Homo sapiens: one gene and its partners. The protein of the gene in region 3 interacts with the protein of the main gene of each other region in a biochemical or structural test. Each region holds a gene or a part of one and is shown on either strand. Other genes may lie near its edges.

Region 1 (5,263 bases), on a different chromosome or scaffold from region 3:
AGCAACCAGGCAGAGGGGCTGTTCTCTGGGTTGGGGTCAGGAACCTCTTCTGGCCTCAGCCCAGGTTGGCAGACATTTCCCTGCAGGGATCCGGGTCCAGGACTCAGGAGGAGGGACAGTCCCACGGGGGTGCTGGGGGGCAGGAATTCCTGGGTGGGCCGAGGTAAGGGCAGCACAGGGTGACCTGGGGCCCTGGGCCCGGTGGAGCTGAGGAGAGGGACAGGCCTGTGGTCGGGGGTCCTAGGTGGGAGGGAGAGCAGAGGGCAGATGCTTTGCGGGTGGAAGAACCACCCTGGGGGGCGGGAGACCCTGAAGGCGCAGGTTTGTGTTTAGATGGAGGTTGCGCTGGCTGGACGGCCTAGGGAAAATGGGTCTGACTGGATGGAGCTGAGTGAGAATGGTGGGAGGCCCTGCAGCCGCCGTGGAGAGAACATGCGCGGGGGAAAGCCCCGGTCCTCCGGCTGGCGAAATGGACCTCTGGAAGGAATGGCCACACGGTGTGAAATCACTGGTGTTTATTGGCTGTGATTCCATCCGGAGAGAACACACGCAGGGGCCCCGACATGCAGGAGGAGGCGCAGGCGCAGGACAGACGGACAGAGGACACCACGGTCTAAGCTAAGCTCGCGGCCCGGGGCGCCATGCGCTGGGAACGGGGTGCGCAGGTTCTACGAGAGGACGCCCTGTCTGCTCAGAGCTGGCTTTGTAAGGTGTGAAAACAGGAGTTTTTAAAAGACACGACCCGGGAGAAGTCAGTGAGAGGGCACAGGGCGAGCAGGACGGACAGCGACGTCCCCGCGGGCCGCGTCGCTGGGGCGCAGAGGGGCGCGGTGGTCTCTGCCCGGAGGGGCGTCGGTCGTTAGTATTGCAGTCTAACGTTATGGCTTCTCTAAAGCTATGTAAGGTCATGAAGGTCAATGCCAAGCCACGCCCTGGCCCGAAACACGTGGAGACTTGATGCATTTTTGATGTGGACGAAAGGGCCCGGGGGCGAGGCGGCGCCTGTCAAGATAAAACTCATTAAATGCAAAGACCTCATTTACCTGAGATTCAACAAATTGTGATGCAAATTAAACATGAATGGAGGAGAAACAGGGGCTCGGATGCCGCCCCGCAGGGCCACCAGGTGGATTAGGCCACACACGCGCCAGCTGCGCGCAGGGAACCCCGCAGGCCCCACCCGAGGAGCTGCCCACGGAGGAGGTGCTGGGCAGGGGCGCAGGGTCTCCAGCGTCCGGTGCCTCGGGCCTCTGCGGCTCCTGTGGAGGGTGCAGTGTTCAATGGCCGAGGGCAGGGGTCCTCCCCAGGGAGAAGCAGCAGCCGCGTGGGCGGAGAGGCTAGGAGGCCGGGCGGGGGGCGAGGACTTGGGAAGAGCGGGGTGACGGGGGTGGGGGCTGGGCGTCCCCCAAACCTATTGCTTTGTTTCCTTTAGTTTAGAAGTGAACACGGCCGTGGCGTTCGTAAGAAGCAAAACCTTCCAGAGAGGAGAGGAAAGGACGCGGACAGAGACGGATGGACAGGGGCGCGAGGGGGCCAGGCCGGGGGGCGGAGAGCGGCCGCGTGCGGACGCAAATACTCACGGCGGAGCGATCCGAACCCCGGAGTCCGCGTGCAGGAGGGGGACCCAGGCCCCGCCGCCCTCGCCCCGCCCGCAGCCCCCCGTCTGCTATGGCTGTGCTCCTGAGTGCGGGCCCGACAGGCGCCCACCGCCGCGAACGCGCGCACAGGGGTGGTCGCGGGGCTGCCCTTCGGCGGCCCTGGCCTCGGGCGCTGCTGGGTGGGCGGTAAACAGCAAGAGAAAGGGGCGTCCCAGGCGATGGGGCTCCAGCCACCCGCGGGCAGAGGAGCACGGGGCGGACTGGGGGGGTCCTGGGGGCGCGCGCCCCTTGCCGGGTGAGGGAGGCGGCGGGCGCGGGCAGGGCGGGCCTGGGGCTATGGCTTATATCGGCGTGGGGGCTGCGCTCTGCTCGTCCCTCAGGGGCCTCCGCGGAGGATCTGTAGGGGGAGGGGCGGGGGCTCCGCGGGGCCGCTGTCCCGCGCGCGGCTACTTCTTGAGCATGTCCTGCAGCGGCCCGGGCAGGTACTTGATGACGGTGTCCAGGATGCTCTCGTCCTCCTCCTCCACCTCGTCCCCGCAGCCCGGCGGGATGGCCTTCTTGGGCCGCGTCAAGCTCCCCTCGGAGTTGGCCTCCATGGCGGCCTGGGCCTCGGCCTCGCGCTCCTCCTTCTTCTTGATGCCGTACTGCGGGGGAGGCGGGGGTCAGGGCGGGGGTCCCGGCGGCTCCCGGGCGGGCCGCAGCCTCCCTGCGCCAGGGACTGGCCCAGGAACCCCCGAAGGCGTGGGTGCGGCCCCCTACCCCACCAGGCACACAAGGACCCCAGAAGGAGAAGAGACCCCACCCCGGGGGGTCCCTGGAGGAATGGGAAGCCCCCACGGAGAATGGGGGCCAGGAGCTGACATGGGGGGGAGCAGGGAGGGGGAGGCTCCCATCTTCCTTGAGAGGAGAGAGGGCTGTGGCCCCACCTCTGGCTCCAAACCCAGCCCAGCCCCTGGCATCCTGCCTTCCAGGAAGCCTCCGGCCCGGGGCAGGGAGGGGTGGGCAGGATGCTGCGTGGCAGAGGTGGGGAGAAACAGTCAACCCGCAGCTGACCCTCCTGCCCAGTGCCTGGTCCACGACCTGCATTCACACTCCCGGGCCTGGCCAAGGCTGCCTGGATGCGGCCGCGGCCCCAGCAGGGCCACTCCCTGGCAGGCCGCTGCAGCTCCGTGGGCAGCCGGCAGAGGGTCCTGGGCTGCGGTCACTTCCAGGCACTGGGTGTCCTGGAATCCCGCCTAGTCGTGCCCTCAGCCAGTATGCCTGGGCCTCACCGACCCCCTGCCCACCCGCGTTTCTCATCTCCCGTGAGTGCGTCTGCCCTCCGTAGTAGCTGAATATTGTCCCCCTCAAATTCATATTGCCTGGAGCTTCAAAGGTGATCTCATTCGGAAACAGGTCTTTGTTGATCTCATAATGGTAAGGATGGGGACGAGGCCATCCTGGATTTGAGGGGCCTCAAGTCCAGTGAGAGTGTCCTTGTAAGAGACAGAAAGGACAGACACCCGGATGGGGGCGGGCATACGAAAGCGGAGGAGGTCGCGAGTGGTCAAGAAACACCAGGGATTCGGGGCCGCCAGACGCAGGAAGGGGCAGGGAAGGGCCCTCCCCCAGAGCCTCCAGAGGGAGTGTGGGATTTTGTTCTTCTGCCCTCCAGGCCTCTAAGTTTTTGTCAGGCCCCGGGGTTTTGGTTTCTAGATCAATACGCCTCCCCACGCCACACTCCTCCAGCCCTCCCGTGAGCCACCAGCCCAGGAAGCCTGTGGTCATGGTCAGGCCACGGAACTACGGAACAGCCTCCTGCTGCCCAGGAAGGTGGGAACCAGTGGGGTTGGGCTGGCCTGGAAGGATTGGGGGCCTGGTGTTGTACGGAGCTGGACTTCCATCCCCTGAACAGGACCCCCGGGCCAGGTCCAAGGTCCTGGATCTGAGATTACAGGTGCTCTGGAGTAGTGAAGGCGTCAGCAGCTGCGTCCAGGAGAAAACTTAGGAGGGGAGTGGGCACCAGCACTCTACAGGACGGAGGAGCACACCGCGGGATCACCAGCCACAGGGAGGGGCCTTTCTGCCCAGGAGGAGCCCCTCCCCTGCCATCTCCTGCTCCTGTCTCAGCAGCCCCTCCCCATAGAAGCAGTTGGTTCTGCTCCTGGTGCTGGGCACCCCCTGGATCTCCAAGGAGGCCCCTCCTTCCTCCCAAATGGAGGGGGGGCTGCCTGTGTGCTCCCCAACCCCACCGAGGGCAGTCTCGGCACCTCTCCCCTCCCCTAGGGCTGCAGGTGGCTCTGGGTGTGGGGGGCCAGGGCCACCTTCAGTGAGATGGAAAGGAGGGCGCCACGTTCCCAGCCGCCTGTGGCCAGACCACCACCTGGCCACTGAGGAGAGAGGGGCCGTGGGCTCGCCCTAGTCCTCAGCAGCCCCTGCGCACTCTTGACAGAGCCGGGACTCCAGGGGTCTCCTCAGTGAAACGAAGAGCACAGGGTAGGAACGTTCTCCGCACAACAGGGGCGACACCCAGAGGGCCCTGCAGGCCCAGAACAAAGCCCTGACCCTGTGGGGCAGCAAGAGCAGATTGGTTCTCGTCCTAGCCATCCACAGCGGGAAGGGCAGCAGCTCCAGGCACGGAAGTGGAGGGAGCATGTGCTCTTCGTCCTGTGGGGCCAGGGGTGTGCTGGGGAGAGCGATGCCACTGGAAGCTAGGTCCGGCCAGAGAGCCTCCCTCCAGCCAGGGGTGTGGGGGTCTGTGCATGTGGCGGCAACATGTGTATCCAGCCCAGGAGGCTGTGCTGCCCACAGCAAAAGCACTCAGGAACATGTGTGTGCTCAGAGGAGCATGCCTGTAACGGCGGAACATGAGTTGTGTGAGCAAAGGAACCTCCCAGGTCAGGGGAGTGACCCTTGGGGCTTGTGGGACCCTGTCTGCAAACGGTGTGGGATCCTTCCTTCTGGGCCCAGGAAGGAGACCCCAGGCCCTGCCACCAGGTTGTGGGACACTCGGAGCTTGGCCTGAAGTGCCAGTTGCTGCAGTGAGGCTCCAGGTCATTCTGAGGCTGAGGTCACGCCGGACTTGGCCTGAGGGCCAGGGTCACTCTGCCGGGAAAACAGGCTCCGGGGCTGGGCTGCACACCAGAGCCTGGCTTCCACGTGGTCTGGCTGAGACCCAGTTCTGAGGCGTCTGCTCCAGAGACAAACGCCCAGGCACACCCAGCCCCAGGCCCACCGTGATGCTGGGCAGCAGCTCTCCAGGAAGTAACACCTGAGGATGGGAGTGGCTGCTGGGGGCGCCCAGGAGGCCCTGACACGTCTGAGGTGAGACCCTGAACCCTGAAAACACGGTATTCGTGAGAAAAAAGGGCAGTGGGTGCTAATCAATGCTGAGAACCAACAATAGGAATGATAGGACCAAACAGCCAGCATTCAGCAACCAGGTGGACACCTCCTAGCCGCTGTGGGAGCTGCGGGGGGTAGGGGGATGCAATGTATTGAGGGAGCCTAGTGGGCCCTCAGAAGGCCCGTGCAGGAAGGCCCAGGTGTGGGCTGCCCAACATGGGTGGCTGGAAGCTTATGCAGGACAAGGGCGGGTCAGTGCGCGGAGCACAGCGGGGCAGTCTCCCTCCTGCTCCCTGGGCCCGGGCCTGTCCAGATGGCTGCCTGACAGGAGGTGCAGGCGC
Region 2 (7,593 bases), on a different chromosome or scaffold from region 3:
GGGGCAAGTTCTACATGCCCAAACGTGTGTAGTGAGTGTAGGAGATAACTGTATATAGGCTACTGAAAGAAGGATTCTGCATTTCTATTCCCCTCAGCCTACCCACTGAAGTCTTTGGGTAGCTCTTAAGCCATAACTAAGGAGCAGCATTTGAGTAGATTTCTGAAAAACAATGTTATTTGTTGATTTAAAAAGAAAACTGTATTTTTATTAAATAAAATTTAAACATCACTTCAGGATATAACTTCTCATTGGTCATTCTTAATCCCTTAAAAGATTAAGAAATAGGCCTCAATGACTAAAGAGTTCTTGGTCCTCCTGGGGTGTAAGATGAACATGAAGGCTGAAACAAATGTTTGCATTCCCCCATCTATGATGCGAGTCTCACTTAAATGTTTATACTGCCTTTTATACGTACACACTTCAGGAGCCAGTTTCTGTGATATTTTACTAGGTTAAAAACACATTTTTAGAGTAAGAAAAAAACAACAGTACATAGGTCAATTGATTCAATATTTATTGATGCCCAGCTACCCATCTTCTCACAATCTTGGAAGGGGTATGTTGGACAATAGGCAAGGAACATACCCTTTGCCTTTTAGCAAAAGGAACCGATGACAAAAGTTAGAACTGCGTGGCCTTTTCTGGGTCTGAAATTCTCCAAGAGGGAGAGTGTTTGGCTCTATGTTTGTGCCCCTGCAGAATCTAGTACAGTGCTATGTGCCATGCACCACTTAAATTCTTACTGCTAGTGAATGAGGGCCCCCTAGGACTCAGATCCTCATAGCTCCAGCTCCGTTTGCCCAGATTAATGTTTTCCAGACCCAACCAGCTGCAGTCTTCTATCCCCTATTAAAACTAAAGGAAGCACAAATTAATAGAAATATCAAACCATTGGCTTTTGAAGGTGGGTAGAAAACAGCACTGACCAAAATATTTTTAATCCCACTTTCTTAAAAAATAAGGTATCAAACAAAGAATAATTTACTTTCAAAAGTACAAACTTAGCAGTTGTGTGCTCCTCACAGTTGTATAGTGTGATTTTTTCATCAATTTTAGTTACATAATCACTAAATAATCTGCACTAGAACTCACATTCACATAGCTGGTTTTAAAGCTGAACACAACTGAACCTTGAATGGAATTGGGGACAGTATTAAGTATTAAGAACAGTTTTTTTTTTTTGTTTTTTTTTTTTTTTTAGATGGAATTTAGCTCTTGTTGCCCAGGCTGGAGTGCAGTGGCGCGATCTCGGCTCACTGCAACTTCCGCCTCTTGCATTCAAGCAATTCTCCTGCCTCAGCCTCCCAAGTAGCTGGGAATACAGGTGCAAGCCACCATGCCTGGCTAATTTTTGTATTTTTTGTAGAGAGGGGGTTTCACTATGTTGGTCAGTCTGGTGATCCACCTGCCTTGGCCTCCCAAAGTGCTGTGATTACAGGCATGAGCCACCGTGCCCGGCCTATAACAGTTTCTTATACATACGTTACTGGCCAGCAGTTTCAGCTAGCAACACAAATCAGGTGAGAGGTGAAGTGAGTGATAACCTCATTTCACCTTTCTCACTTGACACCTTTATCTGTTCTTTGTTATGGTTCACAGAGTGTTCTACTGATGTGTGAGTTCAGTCATGCTATAAACCTATTTTATTTTGTGGGCCTGTATTTCGTTATTGAACCACAGTCCTGGAGCCAGCCATCTTCTCCACAGATTAAGAGGCTGTTGCTAGAACTCCACCATCACCACCCATAGAAAAAGCACTTTAAATTTTCATGTTGTGGTAATGGGGTTTGAAAGGTTGGTAGCATTTTTGCATAAGCAGATCAGCCCATTCCCAAGCGGCTTTACACAGCCTCTGACAGTAACAAACCACGTTCTCATTGGTACCTTAAAGAGTTTAGGAGTCAAACCCAAGGATTTGTCCATGACTGAAATAAGAGCTTAATTATAAGTAATTAAGTCAGCAGATATTTGAGTACCTGTAAGCAGCAGGCGCTGTGCTAAAAAGTGGGGACACAGCAGTGAGCAAGATAGGCATGTGCTTATCCTTAGATAAACTTCACTTTTAAGACTACTACTGGAGCCTGAAAGAGGAAACAGATGTAGGGTGGTCAAAGGTGTGACCTAGAGGAGCCTGAAGAGCAGAAGTGCCCTGACTTGACCAACTCACAGCAGTTCAAGTAAGATCCTGTTGAGTTAGGTGTGCTATGATATCTGCCCCTTCACAGCCATACTGCACATGCAGGCTGTGTCACTTCCTAAAGAGGCGCCCACTCTGCTTGCTTCTCTACCCTGCAGTCCTCCTTTAAACCATCTGCCTAATCAGCTATGTATCTGTACTCCCTGTCCCTGTCCTCCGCCCAATTCTGTATACGTTTATTCTTTGCATAATTCTTAATAAGTAGTTGATTGGTGCCCTGTTTCTTAAGAAGTTTCATAATGGAAAGAGGAGAAGCTGATGAGGAGTCTGCGTGGAGAAGTGATGGTACCACAGAAGTGGAAGGAGGATTAGAAATGCCAGTCGATCAATCTGTGAGGGCTGTGGGAGATAACAGAAAAATGGAGGAAAAAAATCATAGATTATATAGCATGGTGTTCGTGGCTGGGATCACCAAATCCCTCTTACCCGGGGTAAAGGACTACATACAAGGCTGTGTTAACTTTCATTAACCTTGAAAGGGAAGAAATTTAATTTGAATTTACTGTGTGGCCGGCCCTCTTCCAAAAAGTTCAAGATGCACCTAATGCAAGAACTAATTCTTGTTCTTTTTGTCACTTCCAGATACCAAGGCTCAAACTGTTTAGCAGGAATCACTATCCTTCACCTGTACAAAGCATTCTGCCACACCAGGTTATAGGACAGATTGCCACCTTCTGTCTCCCCCCTCCTCCCACAGACTACCTACTAACAGTTCATTCTTCACTCACTTTTCTGTCTCTGAAACATCCCTTTCTTTAGTTTTCTCTAACCATTATTAGCACCTAATCCCACCCAGATTAAGGCACCTAGAGTGCCCCCAAGACACAAAGGTTTCAAGTCAGTGAAAGAAGGTCTGACCCTCCCCACAGATGGCTCACCTTTTTCAGGCAAATATGCTCCCAATGGTGGAAGCTAAGATGATCGCAAGGATAATACAGCAGATCATGATCATGATCTTCTTCTGCTCATCCAGACAAGGAAAGAAAGAATACATGAGAAACATCATCGCAAAAAGTATTCTGCAGGGAGATAAGTGCATGTGGACATGGAAGAGGGTGTGAAGGAAGAGAGCAACAGAAGGAAAAAGGAGATGGATCTGGCTTCTAGGACCCAGAATGCCAACAGAAATGTTATTTTTGGTGAGACATTCAAGTTAGATTAAAAGGATGTTTGGTATGGTCATTCCACCTTCTAGATAACATCGTGACAGATCTCCCCCATTTCCTCCTAAAGCCAGATACTCCCAAGGACTGAACCAAATTCTTTTGGGGGGAACACCTCAAATCTGAAACACAAACATAGTTACACTGCATTCTGTGGGAGTTAAACCATGTTCAAAAATTGCACTTTTGAACCATCTGATCCAGCACATGGCTTAAAAAGGTGTGAACTGCATTCTAAAACCTGAATAAAAATCACCACATGGTGGCACCAGATCATTGTGTTTCTGCATCGAGACAGAGCCAGAACCGTTTCACAATCAATACAAAGTCATTTTTATTTTTAAATTAGCAATAAAATAATCAAGTTTACATCTAAAAAATACAAACAACAACAAAAACCTTCACATGTTGTATTCCAAACTGTAAGCCCCAGGCCTCAATGTCAGAGGAGAGCAAAGGCCTTTAGTTATTTTGTCTCTTGTTGCTGGAGCCCATCCACTGTCTGACATCATAGCCATGGGCAAGAGGATATTGCCTTGGCTCTGTCTGAGTGCTGGATTGTGACCGGCCATAAGTAGCCTTTGCAAAGGAAGCTAATGGACAGTGCCTGAATTAAGGGTGCTTACCCTATCCTAGAAAGCGTTAAAGTCAAAGCGGAAAATATACATGGTACCCAAAATCAAGGAGACTGCCAGAGACCAGCAGGGGATCTAAGGGATTTACCACTGGGTTAGCACAGACACTACACTTGAAGATTTCCTAGCGGCTGCTGCTGCTGTTTCCATGATAAGAATTCAGTGAGACAAAGAACCTGCCAAGCTCATTAACCGAGTAGCAGGAAGAGCTACTGTGTAGCCTCTGGTGTTCCCCAACTGACTCAGCCCTGCAGATGGGACATCCTGTAGGTCATGTGAATATCAAGTTACTGAGGGATGTTCTCAGGACAAGCCTAGCATAGGCACCAGGTGGGAAAGGGTGTCAAAAAATTATACCTTCTGTCTGCTAAGCAGAAAAACTTAATTGGGATCAATTTAGCTCACTCCAGAGTTCTCATTTTATTCTCCCAGTATTCATCCAGAAAACAAGTTTCTTGATGATATGGGAAGATCACATTTCCACAGTGATTCATTTGCAGGTAAGCAAATGTCCTTTACCCAATTTTTATCCTAGCTCAAAGTTGGCTTTTTTTTTTTGAGGTCATAATAGCTTCCATTTTTATTTCCTACTTCCTGAGACACACACACTTATGTGTACATACATTTCATACACAATTAGAATACATCTGGAACACATGAGTGAATACACCAGTGTCATGAAATATTTCCAGAGCTTAGGATTCTAGCACCTTGTCCCTTGCCCAATTTAAAATCCCTGATTATTTTTGGCCCCAAGACAATAGTCTCACAAAGCATCACTTTCTAACAATGAGCAGCCAGTTTCTAAGACTCAGACATGGAAACATATTCCATACCGTCAGCCTTTTGCAAAGCATAACCTCAGATGACTGTATCATCCTGGTCCCTCCTTGAGTAAATATGAGAGACTACAACACAGAGAAAAATCAAAGTTGCCCCCCAAGCTGAACAACTAAGAGCTTAATTTAAGGCTGAATTTCAAACAAGTCAGCTCTTTAGACCAAAATGACATCTGCCAGTCCCTCATGTTTTCAGGACATACGGACAACAAACAGGATTGGCATCCTGCCAGGTAGAAGACTCAGATCCAAGCCTTCTTGTTGCCAAACTTAGAAGAATCATTCTGCTTTGTTAAAGATACTCCCCTAAAAAAATACATTGCAGTTTCTGGGAGAATACTCCATGAGGTAGAAAAATACAGCACCTTGGGAGAGTCTCACAAGAGCTTTCCCAAGTGCAAGGCATAATCTGACACACAACAGGGAGGAAGAAAGCTGGGTGGGTCCACACAGTCCAGGAGAAAAGGTACTTGAGAGCTGGTGGGGCAGGAGGAGGCTCTGGGGAGAACTCAGGGTCGCATCAGGTAGATCACATTCCCCCAGGGCTAGATTGTTAGCTGAGTCAGGTCCAAGGGTGGTTGCAAGGAAACAAAGGAACGGGTCGCACTCGCTCTCAGGAAGGCCATTCAGACTCCATTCTCATCTGAAGACAAGGGTGGCCACACCAGTCTGGAGTGAAATCAGTTTCTAGGAGGCAGGGAAAGGAGGAGCTGATCAGTACACAGGAAGAAGGCAAAGGGCAACAGAAGGAGTCAGCCACAAACCTGGAAGGTGGGGAGGAAAGACCAGAAATCACTATGAAATAGACAAACCCAGGACAGAACTTGGAGTTAAATATCCCACTGTACAAAGAACAAAAAGCCCTACTGTGAGAGGGGAAAAAAATAGAAAAGCCTCTAGGCCTTTTATAAGCCTTCTCACAGGCTGTCCACACCCATGGAAGGACGTGGTGGGAAGGGACAATCCCTAGTGAAAACACCTGCTCTGCAGGTCCCACAGCAACACCGCTCCTGAAGACAGGCTGCAGGAGCTGCTTTCTGGTTCTCGATCTTCATGAACTCCCTGCTGCCTTTCTTTTAGAAAACAGAAGGACACAATGAAAAGCCTATGGAAAAAGTTCAGGGGTCATATTATGGCTGCTCCACCTTATGAGCTATGTAGTCTTGGGCAAGTTCCTTAACTTCATTGCTCTTTCCCCGTCTGTAAAATGAGGATACTATGATCTTAGAGCAAGCAGCTGGCACATTACTAGGAAATATAAACACACTGTCTACCCTCCTGTTCAGAGACCTCTCTCCCTTGGGTGACATGGAGGAAGAGGAGAGTCCAGACCTAGGCAACAATCAGTCTTGACTTTGTTAGGGAACATGGAATACACTACAAAAAAAGCAGCTTAACAACTGCTCAGCAATTTAGCAGGTTAAAGATAGGGTTAGTCAACCAAAAACAACATATTAATTAGTCTGCTCCTCTTTGAGGAGTTACGTCCTGAAAAATGATTCATATACCTTCTGAAGTCCTGGAATTAGGAATAGAAAGGGGCACCACAAATTTGCATATCATCTTTCATCCAAGGATATGGAAAAATAACAACTCTTATATCTTTTTAAAATTTCAACATCTATTTCAATCAGATTGTTCAGAGCCAAACCAAAATTTAAAGTTCACATACAAAAAAGTCAAGGGCTAGACTCCAAGTGCCAGAAAAAAGAGGGGAAAAAAAAAATCAACCAACCACCTGTCTATGAGAGGTTGTTCATCTCACTGTTGCTTATCTTTCAAGATGAAGTTGAATGCTCAATGCTGTAATAAGCTGACTTTTAGATCCCCTGGTCACATGGAAGGAGGAGGAATAAGAAGAGACACACTGAAACAAATATAAAAGGAAGGCACAGCTCTGGGTACTGGCATGGTATTATGTGCCAAGTCTTAAAAATGTTTATACCTGTTATTTCAGTACTCCAACTTATATGAGTTGGTAATAAAGAGAAAATTTAAATGAGAAAAATATTAAATAAGGTTAGTCACACTGTTAGCTACAGCAAAATAACATAAACCTCCAACATTGTGAAAATGTTAAATATTTGAGAGTATGGCCACAATCTCATATTGAAAATTAGATTTACAAAGAGATTTTAATGCTGTGGAATGATGCTTATAATTTTCTAACTGGGTACAAAACTGGATAATATAGTCTGAACTATGTAAAACTATGTCTGAGTATGTGAACGTGCCACAAGGTTATCAGCAATAATATTAAAAGTTCATTAGTTTTATGTTTTCTGTATTTTATAGGTTTTTTTTTAACAATGCATGCTATATTTTATTCAGAAAAATATTTTAAAAGTCACTGGCTGGGCGCAGTGGCTCATGCCTGTAATCCCAGCACTTTGGGAGGCCAAGGCAAGTGGATCGCTTGAGTCCAGGAGTTCAAGACCAGCCTGGGTGACATGGCAAAACTCCATCTCTACAAAAAATATAAAAGTTATCTTGGCGTGTTGGTGTACACCTATAGTCCCAGCTACTCAGAAGGCTGAGGCGGAAGGATCACTTGAGCCTGGGAGGCAGAGGTTGCAGTGAGCTAAGATCGCACCACTGCGCTCCAGCCTGGGCGACAGAGCAACACACAATCTCAACAACAAAAAAAAATTGTTTGTTTTAAAGTCACAAAAGTCTTAATAGTCCCAATAACCAGATTGATATGCTCACTACTATTAAACGTGATTCAGGCCGGGTGCAGTGGCTCACGCCTGTAA
Region 3 (10,181 bases):
GACTTTAGGTCAGAGCACGAAGATGGAATTAGAAACGATATTCTTCTTTCTAAGAATATTCTTAATATTTCTAAGACTCAAATTAAGTCTCAAAATTTCTAAGACTCAAATTAAGAATACAATAAAAAGCTTATTGTGCTAAGTCAGAGTCTCTGTGCTCATCTCTTTTCACACTTGGGATTGACACCAATGGGAAGAGTAATGATAATTACAGTTTGCCCCTTAACCCTGCTTGCTCCCAGGAACTCCAAGGAGAGCTACTTGTTCAAGATGATTTTTATTTACTCATATGTTAATAACATGGGTTTTTTAGTGGCATGGTGCATAGGTGATTTCAGAGTCAAAAACTGTGAAACTGTGACAAAAGAGTATTGTTTCAGGTTGAGTGGAATGGGAATGGGAGGAAGGAGCTGGCTCACAAAACACATTACATTTTTTCACAGTCCAACTTGAAAGTTAAGGAGGTACTTATTTCAGAATTTCCCTAGTATATATGGTATTGAGCTAAAAAATATTCAGAAGGGTTAAAATCCTTCCCCCATGGTAACTCCCAATGCAGACTGGCTCATTATGGTTTCAAAAGCAGCCCAGGGCAGAGAAAATTAAAAAACTAAAGGAGAACTTTCTGGCTTTTTCCTGTAGGGAAGAAGTTTATTTAAATGATCATCAATAGCTAAGAGATACTTCTAGTTCAATGGTGCTTGGCCCTGAGTGCATATCAGAATCACCTGAGGAGCTTTAATGGGCCACAGGTGCTTGTGTCTCACTTCAAGAGATTCTGGTTCAATTGGTGTGGATTGGGCCCAAACACTGGTAGTAAAAGAAAAAAAAGTCTCCCCTGGTGATTCTAATGTACAGCCAGGCTTGAGAACCCTTGGGCTACTTTCCCTGGGAGCAAAGGGAGAGCTGAGTTCTGAATTGGCTGATGTGTGTAACTTGAGTTTTTTTTTTTTTTAAAGGAAATGCCCCTGAGTCATAATTTGAACTTTTAAAAATAGATATTTAAATTGGCTTTTGATTCTAGGTTTCAAAATAAATCATTAATAAGAAGCTCATTATTCTCTATTTTCACTCCAAATCCGTTCTTGGACCTTCTTTGCTCTGTGCTCTCAGGAGCTGACCTCATGACTATATCACCCAGCTCCTCTTACCCTCTGGCTTTCAGTAGGCTTTGGCTAATGGCCAATGAAACTGCAGGGCAAGAGGAGTGAGGGGCTACAGCATTTATTTCCCTCTTTCACTCCCTGTTAGCTTTGGTAGTGGCTGTATTTCTCTACTGATAGTTCCTTGCCCACAGTCGTAACTATTGCTGGGTTCTGATAATCATTCCTTCTCCTGTCCCCCAGGACTATGGTGGTAACAACTTCCTGCTATTGCTAGCTCAGAAGTGCTTCACCATTCCTTGTTATTAGTCCTGCCCACCCCTCTGTAAGTAGTCTCTTTTATAAGCTCTATTCAATTAAACTCATGGAATGTGATGCCTGTCTACTGCCACATTGAGTCTGGATGTGGTCATGTGACTTGCTTTGTCTAATGAAACCGGCAAATACAAGGTAAGCAAGCAAAGGTTTGGTAAGTGCACTGAGGCTTGCCCCCTTGGAATACTGCTACCACCATGTAAGGAACCTGGGCTCTCTTGCTGAAGAGGCCACATGGAGAAGAACAGACATGCCCCACCAACAGCCCCAGCCAACCACCAGACAAGTGAATGGGGCCATCTTGGATCACCCCACCCAGGCAAGGTCCAGGAAAGGCTTAGAAAAGAACACTTAGCAGGTATGTAGATTAATGAGCAATAAAATGGTTGTTTTTTAGAAAACCACTCAGTTTTGGAGTTGTTTGTACTTGACAATAGAGAACTGCTACAGTGTATGCTGCATGAGGCTCACCTGCGGATGAAGCCGCCACTGATGGCCATCTGCTCCCGTTCGTCCACTACACGAGCAGGCTGGCTGGCCACCACTCCGTCCTGATTATTGCCCCAGGCTTTTTTGTAAGCATCACTTGATTTAAGCCTATGCAAAAGAGAGGGTGAGTGACAAGGCACAGGGGTGGAGGAGCAAGCTCTCAACAATTGTCACTTCTTCAAGCGAAGAATCGAACCAAGCGAATGAGTTTTAAGTCGAGGCATTAGATAATACCGATATATCATAATCCAGACCCAAACAGTTGGCCACCACCATGCCTCAGCTACTCAACATTTCACTTCCAATCGAATCCATTGCAATGGACTGCAATCTTTGCCCACAAGGTTGTTCTTGTTTTGGTTTGTTTTGTGGTTTAGTTTGGATTTTGGACAAGGATTAAGGTAGCTGGAGGACATTTAATTCTATTTTAGTGATGTGATTATATTTGGAGACATAAAACAGAGAAAAACATACTGGCAGACAGACACAAAACAAGACTGCCAAGTAGAGTGTGCACATCACACCACAGCAACACACTGTCATCAAGAAAACATCCTCAACCAAGTTTTTACACACCATCATGCAAAGATCCCTGTGGAATATTTTTTTTTCCCAACACGTGTGGAACTAACATTTCCAAAGCTCCATGAAGGACATAAAGGATTGGTGGTTGGCCAAGAGTGATGGTCTTTGCATTGCCTCTAGAGTGATTTGAATTAGATAATATATCGGTACTTCCAAACAGTCACCATACATCCAGAGTTGATGTACAAACCTTTGTCCACAGAGACAAAAAGTAAAAGAAGCATAGTGAAATGAATGCAGGAAAAGAGAAGAGAGAACAAGCCATCTAGCACCAAAAAGGGAAACCCCTCTACGTCTTCTTCATGCACCAGCTACAGGCATGAGTAGAAAGTGAAGCATTCTCATTTAAGCCAAACTACTCCAGAAGTTGACCATTCTCGAAAAAGGCACTAGCAGGACAGTAATAGCCTTCATGAGGATTTGAAACGCAGGTTCAGTAGCTTCTTTGTTGGGCTGAGGGGCAGGGCAGAGAGTGCTTACAAACTCCTAGTTTAAACTATCCTGGGGTTGTAATGGAGGAGAGTGGTTTAATGCTGGTATGGTCTCCATGGGCTGTATTTCACTGAGCTGCCTTGGAGAAAAGACTTAAAATCCAGGCATACCTATTGTGCCCAATAGAAACATGTGCAGCATATTTTGGTGAGTGTTGTAATTAAAGGCAATCAAAGATGTTTTTAGGTTCTTTACATAGTAGAAACCATATGCTTTTTAGTCCAAAAACAAGAGACATTCTTTGGTCCCATTTTCACATTTTTTTTTGTAAGACACCAGAATTTAACATTTTATCTTCTTCTTTCGCCAGAGGACCACAGCCATCTATTAAAACTGGCTCTAATACTTGCAGACTGGGGGCCAAGCAACCCTAGAGACAAACTGGAAAATTGTACCAATGGAATTTCAGCAACTCCCACAATCAAGTCTATAATGCCGCAGGCCTTAGTGCAGTCAAAATTAATTGCACCAAAGGGCCATGGACCCATTCAATGAAACGAGATCCCCAAACTAAATTTAATAGGGCTTAGAGTCTGGCTTTTTTAATTTTTATTTTTCCAACTCCCCATCTCCTCCCTCCTCAGATTAAAAGAAGTTATATGGACTTTGTGATGTTTTCTGCTATGTCAAATGTCTGCTATACCATCTTTGGCAAAGTCAAAGGAGTGGGAAGTATGCGTTTCTGAAAGAAGGCAAACCACTGCACCCACAATGCTGCACATAGACTCACATCACTGCCGTACATCTACCATCGTCCCTTGAAACATGCCGAGACAGGGCGAAGCCCTCAGAGAGTCCAGGGCACCACCAGCCACTGCGTTGTGACACATGGTTTTTAAAGCATTATTTACACACAATAGGGAACACCTCAGTCAAGCTTTGAAGCTTAGTTTAGGGTCTCTTGTGCATTAAGGAAATTAGTGACCACTCAAAAGTGGAATTCGTAGGAGCCATCATTTCATTAGAACATCAGAATCCATCCCAGGGGACCCTGCCTTCACCCTTTCTTCACACACAGTTGATGAAGGGGGGAAAATGTATCTGTTGGAATTTATCATGAAATGGATGGAAATCTCACCTGGGGGCAAGTTGCCACTGAAAGGAATATACAGTCAAATCTTGACTAACTGGAATGCTTGGTAATGAGGCTTTTTTTTTTTTTTTCTGATGAATTATATGACTTTCTTAATGAACAGTGGGGCCATGGAGGAAAGTTTTGTTTCATGGATGATGAGTGAATATCTTTGCTAGACTCCTGAGCCACTTTCCTGCCTGAAAGTCTTAAGGTAGAAGACCTGATTGAATCTTTCCTTGGTTATCATTTATACTGATTGCTTGATGGCCTTTTCTGTGAAGATCAACTCTTATTGTTTGGTCCTCATAGATGTGGAAGTTGCAGGAGGATGGAGACTAAGTGAGACAATGCAAACTACCCTGGAAGAAAAACCATTTTACATTTCTGATGTGATTTTTTTTCTTTGTTTCTTTTTTGCTAAAAATGGAAGGGAGCAAGAGCATGCAGCTGAGGTTTCCAGTTAGCTAGATTCCAGTTAATCAGGCTTTACTGTAGATCACTCTTTAAAAAGCAGAATTTTTTAATTTTTTTGCAATATGAGCCCCTCCCCCTCCTAAACAGGAAGTGGGATATTTTAAATCAGCCTCAAAGTTTAAAGGATGTGAATGGTCATATAATCTGCTAAAAATGACGTCAATTTCTATTCTAAAAGCTAGGATCAGGAGAGCTTTTAGGAAAAAGTCTTCTTTTAGAAGGGGGAAGTGGGAGGGGTGAGGGAGATTGGATAAGGAGTTTAATTTTCCAAATGCATGTTGGGCAATCCACTCATGCATTTCTTTTTCCACCACTAGTCAAATGAGACAATCTTCCAGAACCCTCAGTTTTAGGTTCCTTCCATTGCAAACCTTTATAACCACATGTCACATTTCTGCTACATTCCAAAAAAGCGTTGCAGAACCTTGAGAACAGTTGAATGTTTTGTGATGTTGTGCATGCAAAATCTACACATTTCAACATTTCAGCCAGTGTACGGGTAGATCTTCCAAGGAGAAAAATTTGGGAGGGATGGGTCCAATTTGAGTAAGGCTTGAGCACTTCTTGCTGAAGAGCTCATTGCCTCTGTGTTGGGTGCAGTGGCAGCATCTATTGACAAAATTTGGCAACTGGTGGGCAGTAGAAAGGGAGAATCTCTGTCATATTCTCTAATTTATAGAATCCTTCCCTGGGCCAAATTACCTGTCTCTTTTATTTTGGAAAAAATCAAACCTTCGCATATGTGTTTCTCATCTTCCAAACTTACCCGCAGCCTTTTCTAAATCTGTAATTTTGACTCTTGGGGTTGGGGAAAAGGAAGTTCCCTGGGTGCCTCTTTCTTGAGGCTAGCCTCTGTCTCAAGGTACACTTTCTGGAAAATGTTGAAACGTTCATCAATAAAAGTTGCTGACAGTGAAGCTTTCACTGTAGTATGCCTGATTTTTAATGCATCAACAGTAACTCCTGCTAATATCATCTATGCTATGAGATGAATGCATTGGAGACGGTATTGATCTGTTCTGCATGCCACATGCTCATCCTGCCTATGAGCTTGGCAGGAATGAGCTTGTCAAGGCTTGGAGATGGGCCTTGGGAAATCAAAGCTTCAGGCAGGCAGGCAGCACCTACTTGTTACAGGGACACACACAAAGCCCGCAGAATTTTCCTAGGTCCGTCAAATTCTTTTCTGCTTCTTTCATGTCCTTATTGATTTGGTCCATCCCTTCCTCAATGCGTTCCAGTTGTTCTGATTAAACACAAGTATTTTATCCCCACAGAATGAAGCAGATGGAAAAGGACAAAGAAAAAAAGACAAAACTTCAGACATTCACTTTGACATTAAAAAAGAAAAAAAAAAAAAGAAAGAAAACTGGACGCCACAGATTAGAGCTGGTACCCAGTACCTACTTGTTACAAGGACATATGAAAAGGCCACAGCATTTCCCTAAATCTTTTAAATTTTTCTCAGCCTCCTTCATGTCTTGGTTGATATGGTTCATGCCTTCTTCGACACGATCGAGTTGTTCTGGTTAGGACAAAGGGATGACAGTGTGGAATGAATTTTTTGGGGGTCTCCAACAGAACATGAGAAATGACTATGTGAAACAGAATTTGAAAGAGAGATATTACAATGCATTGTCCAAGAGGATGCATTGTTGAAGACTGCTACCGCTGCCCTACACAGGTATGGGTGGAAAGAAACAAACCAAACGATGCTCAAAATACTTTGTAATTCAACATGATGGGATGGGGTGGAAGGCCTGTTTGATTCTGAGTGTCCAGGAAAACAGCACAGCATATTCGCTTACTCAGGCACCAGTGAAATCCAGGAGAAAAAAAAACAGGGTGTTAGTTTATGTTTTAGGCATTCCAGTTTAACGCTACTAAGGAAAGGATCTGCTTCAACTTTAAAATATCTCCATCTTTTGGTTTTTAAGCATCCTCAACCAGATAAGGGTAGAAAATAGAATCCATTTTCTTCTTTGGAGACAACAGCAGCAGCAGCAATCATAAGCAATGGGTATGGATGTCTTTTCTTCCCCTAGCAGTGGCAGTCTAGCCAGAGGTAGCCATGGTCTGCACTTGATTGTGCATATGTAATTCGTAAAAGCTGTTTTTTAAAAAAAGAGTAACATCCACACAGCAACATTGTAAGTCCTGGAACATTGCAATTCCTCTATCATCCTATGACTTAATTGCTATGAATGTTTTGGAAGGCATTTCACTTCTCTGCCCCCTGATTTCCAAGTCTATAATGGGGGTCATGCTCCAAGCCCAGGCAGAGAGCAGGGAGAATGAATGTCTCTTTGGAAGTAGGATTATGAATTGGAACATAGGACAATATGGTGTCACTGCTGCCAGCATAGCTGACCTTAGTGTATCTAAGTACATAGATCAATAGTCATAAAAATGAATCATACTTCTAGGTTGCCAAGGTTACATACACCAACTTGATTAATTTTTTTGAATTGTATCACCAAATTGAGATAACTACAAGTTCAATGAAAGGATTTTTAAAACAGCTTTAAAAGACCATTAAAGGAAGGCAGCAATGGATGTCTTCGCTGGCTAATTACAAAACCTAATTACATTTCCATTCCTCTTTTCATCTGTATTTTCATGCATGCATGCCTGTGCCTCCTGGAATAAAGGCATGCCTAGAATACAACTGATAAGTACATTTCCAGCCTAAGGGCATACATTATCACTTAAACACAATTTCACATTAAGTTATACAGTGGAAATTGTGCTTCCAAAAAAACTAAGATACATTCACTAGTGACCCAAACTGCCAGACTGTGAATTTGGAAAATAAAAGCCTACTGTGTTTTCTTTCGTGAGGCTAAAGAACAGAATTCAGTTCATGAGGAATCTGCTATTTCTCTTATGCTTTTGAAATGACAGGTGAAAACAAAATTTCATTGTTTATCCAGCATTGAATACCTGGAGGAGATAATAAGGTAGTGCAGGAGAACTTTTGCCGAATAAATACAGGCACAGTGATGGCTTAAAAAAAAAAATCCGCAAATATAGCTGGGTGTGGTGGCTCATGCCTGTGATCCCAGCACTTAGGGAGGCCAAGGCAGGCAGATCACCAGAGGTCCAGAGTTTGAGACCAGCCTGGCTAACATGGTAAAACCATGTTTCTACTAAAAATACAAAAAAAATTTCTGGGCGTGGTGGCATGCGCCTGTAATCCCAGCTACTTGGGAGGCTGAGGCAGGAGAATTGCTTGAACCTGGGAGGTGGAGGTTGCAGTGAGCTGAGATTGCACTATTGCATTCCAGCTTGGGCAACAAGAGCGAAACTCCGTCCCAAAAATAAAAATTACAATTAAAAAAAATTTTTAAAAGGCTATATATATGGCAATCCCCTACATTCAAGAAGATTTTTTTCTTTTCTAAGGATTTCACTCCAGTTTCCTTTTAAGAATGCAATAAATTAGTCTGTAGATCAAGGTAAATATTCAAGTGGAGGGACTGGTGTGGGGAAAGGAACTCATCATCAGATGAAGAACCATTATATATACAGACAATAGGGATGCCAAATCCCAATCAAGTAATTGCTAATGGCCTCTGGGAATGCAGGCTTGAGATGGATTGGAGGAGGCATCTGGACTCAGAAGGAGAGATGCTGCCCCCAGCTAATGACAGCTGAAATAAGCATAGATTATGGCGTGGGGACACATATGCAATTATTTGTCTTTCTTGAGGAGTTTCTCCTAAGTTACAAAGCGAGTTGATAATTTTTTTTTTTTTTGGCCAAAATATTAACTCTCTGACAAGATATTAGGGACCCATCCACTGTGCTTCCAGAGATTAGGAGGTAACATATATATGTGAATTGGTGCACAGGTATTGGACCTATGAATTAGATAATTGATATTAAAAAGGGAAAAACAAACAGGCACGTCTAAATCCATATTTCAGAAAGCTGGGCTCTGCCATCGGTTACCAGCTTAATTTGGCAAAGTTTTGACTAAAAGAGAAAACTCTGAAGCTGAATTTGATTCAGAAAACTATTCAGAAAATAGTTGATTCAGAACACTATTTTATAACTACCAATATCAGTTGAATATATATTTACATAAGAATTCTAAGTCAAACCTTTAATTTAAAAAATATTGTGGAGTCATTTTGTTGCAGAAATTCTAGCAATAATATTAATTTTTAGAGTGTACTGAGTTATGTTTGTGGAGATGTTTGGCATATTGGGACTTCATGGCACTTCAATGATTTCTGTGAAGATGCTTCTCAGGAAATGCTTATAAGCATCTCATTCTGGGATGAACAGCAGCATCTCTGAGGCTGATGCAACGCACCATCCAGTGTTGACTGCTTTTGATCTCCCTAAGCTTGTTTTCTGGCTCATTTCTGTTTATTCTTGGGGGCTGGGAGGAGAATAACATTTTGAGTAGGGAGGGGGTCTTCAGGTAGGTGACACTATATGTTGGGGCCAGAGCTTGGGCTTTCTTTTGCCATGATATTGGATCACTGGTTATTTGTGATAGATCCACCAATGACAGAATCCTCAAGGATCTATATTAATGTTTTCCATTAATATTTTTCCAATGACTGGTGAAAACAAAATTTCTACTAATCTCTCCTAAGTAAGCCAACATGGGGCCCTTAGTATTCTCAATCTAGTAAAAATCAGTAGAAGAATAGTAAGCATTAATACTATTAATCTAGTATGCAGCCTTCATGAGTATATCCAGTTACAAGATGCTGCCTCTATGAATTTCATTTTTCTTAGCATTTATGAACATATAGAAATTTATTTAAATTTAAATAGCCCTATGTGGCTATCATGACTAAGTACAGCCTTAGTCATTCATAACAGATATTGGTGAATGGACTTTAGCTAGAGAGATGGTTTTTCAGATGCCACCTTGTAGTGCCATGAACCTTTTAAGATAGCTGACTCTCCGGACAGGAATTTACTTTGTCTTTCTTCTGTCAGACAGTAGTCAAATATTTCACTGTTTAGTTTGGAGCTGATCCCAGGAGATTTTCCCAAAAGTCACATCTTCAGCATCAAAACAGACATACAACTCAGCAAAGACCAGCAAAAGGAACAAGAGATATGCAGGTAAAAGCCCACATTAGTGCCAGGGTCATTTGGGGACTTCCCTTGGTGACAAATTTTCTAGAGGAATGAAAGTTCCAGGGCTCAGTACGTTTCCAGGTCTGGTTGTCATGCTCAGTGCTCCTTGGTGTCTCCCGATACCTGGGTATAAAGCAAGAATCCCATAGGAAATTTCCTAGTGCAATCATTTAACTGGACAACCTGGAATGGCCTGGCCTGACCCAACAGTGGTTGAGATGGTTCTTTAGAAGAATGGCTGTTTCTTGAGGCTCCCGTGCTGCTGTGAGGTAGAAATAGTCAACACTTTTGGTGCTCACGCATAAACAAAATTAGTAGAGCATAAATGAAGAGAAATTTCAAAGCAGTTACTGATCTAAACAAGTAAAGGCAAAATTAAAATGCACTTATATGGCAGTTAAGATAGCTGTTGACATGCTCATCTGTCAATTAGAAAGGTCCTTCTGTGTCTCTACTGCCTAATTAAAAAAAAAAAAAAGGTCCTAAGTTCCTATTATACTATAAATGAAATGTGTACCATTTAAGACCGGCCAGAAACCACC

The links. The genes of interacting proteins can lie anywhere in the genome.
Region 1: the proteins of SNAP25 (region 3) and CPLX1 are reported together in a solved structure, tested with the Homo sapiens proteins (2 studies listed by BioGRID, with this or other methods).
Region 2: the proteins of SNAP25 (region 3) and STX3 form a complex in vitro, tested with the Homo sapiens proteins (2 studies listed by BioGRID).

Annotation. Positions count from the first base shown.
Region 1 is NC_000004.12:784,457-789,719, forward strand, and holds the end of CPLX1 (complexin-1), read right to left. Parts: intron 4,902-5,263; exon of another isoform or gene 3,493-4,901; intron 3,411-3,492; exon of another isoform or gene 3,318-3,410; intron 2,243-3,317; coding exon 2,045-2,242; 3' UTR 501-2,044; downstream 1-500. UniProt on the Homo sapiens protein: Positively regulates a late step in exocytosis of various cytoplasmic vesicles, such as synaptic vesicles and other secretory vesicles.
Region 2 is NC_000011.10:59,798,786-59,806,378, reverse strand, and holds the end of STX3 (syntaxin-3), read right to left. Parts: intron 6,705-7,593; exon of another isoform or gene 5,525-6,704; coding exon of another isoform or gene 5,477-5,524; 3' UTR 3,162-5,476; coding exon of another isoform or gene 3,084-3,161; 3' UTR 501-3,083; downstream 1-500. Other genes in the region: MRPL16 (large ribosomal subunit protein uL16m), read left to right, coding at 1-32. UniProt on the Homo sapiens protein: Potentially involved in docking of synaptic vesicles at presynaptic active zones. Apical receptor involved in membrane fusion of apical vesicles.
Region 3 is NC_000020.11:10,288,759-10,298,939, reverse strand, and holds part of SNAP25 (synaptosomal-associated protein 25), read right to left. Parts: intron 6,059-10,181; coding exon of another isoform or gene 5,941-6,058; intron 5,780-5,940; coding exon 5,662-5,779; intron 2,016-5,661; coding exon 1,890-2,015; coding exon of another isoform or gene 1,886-1,889; intron 1-1,885.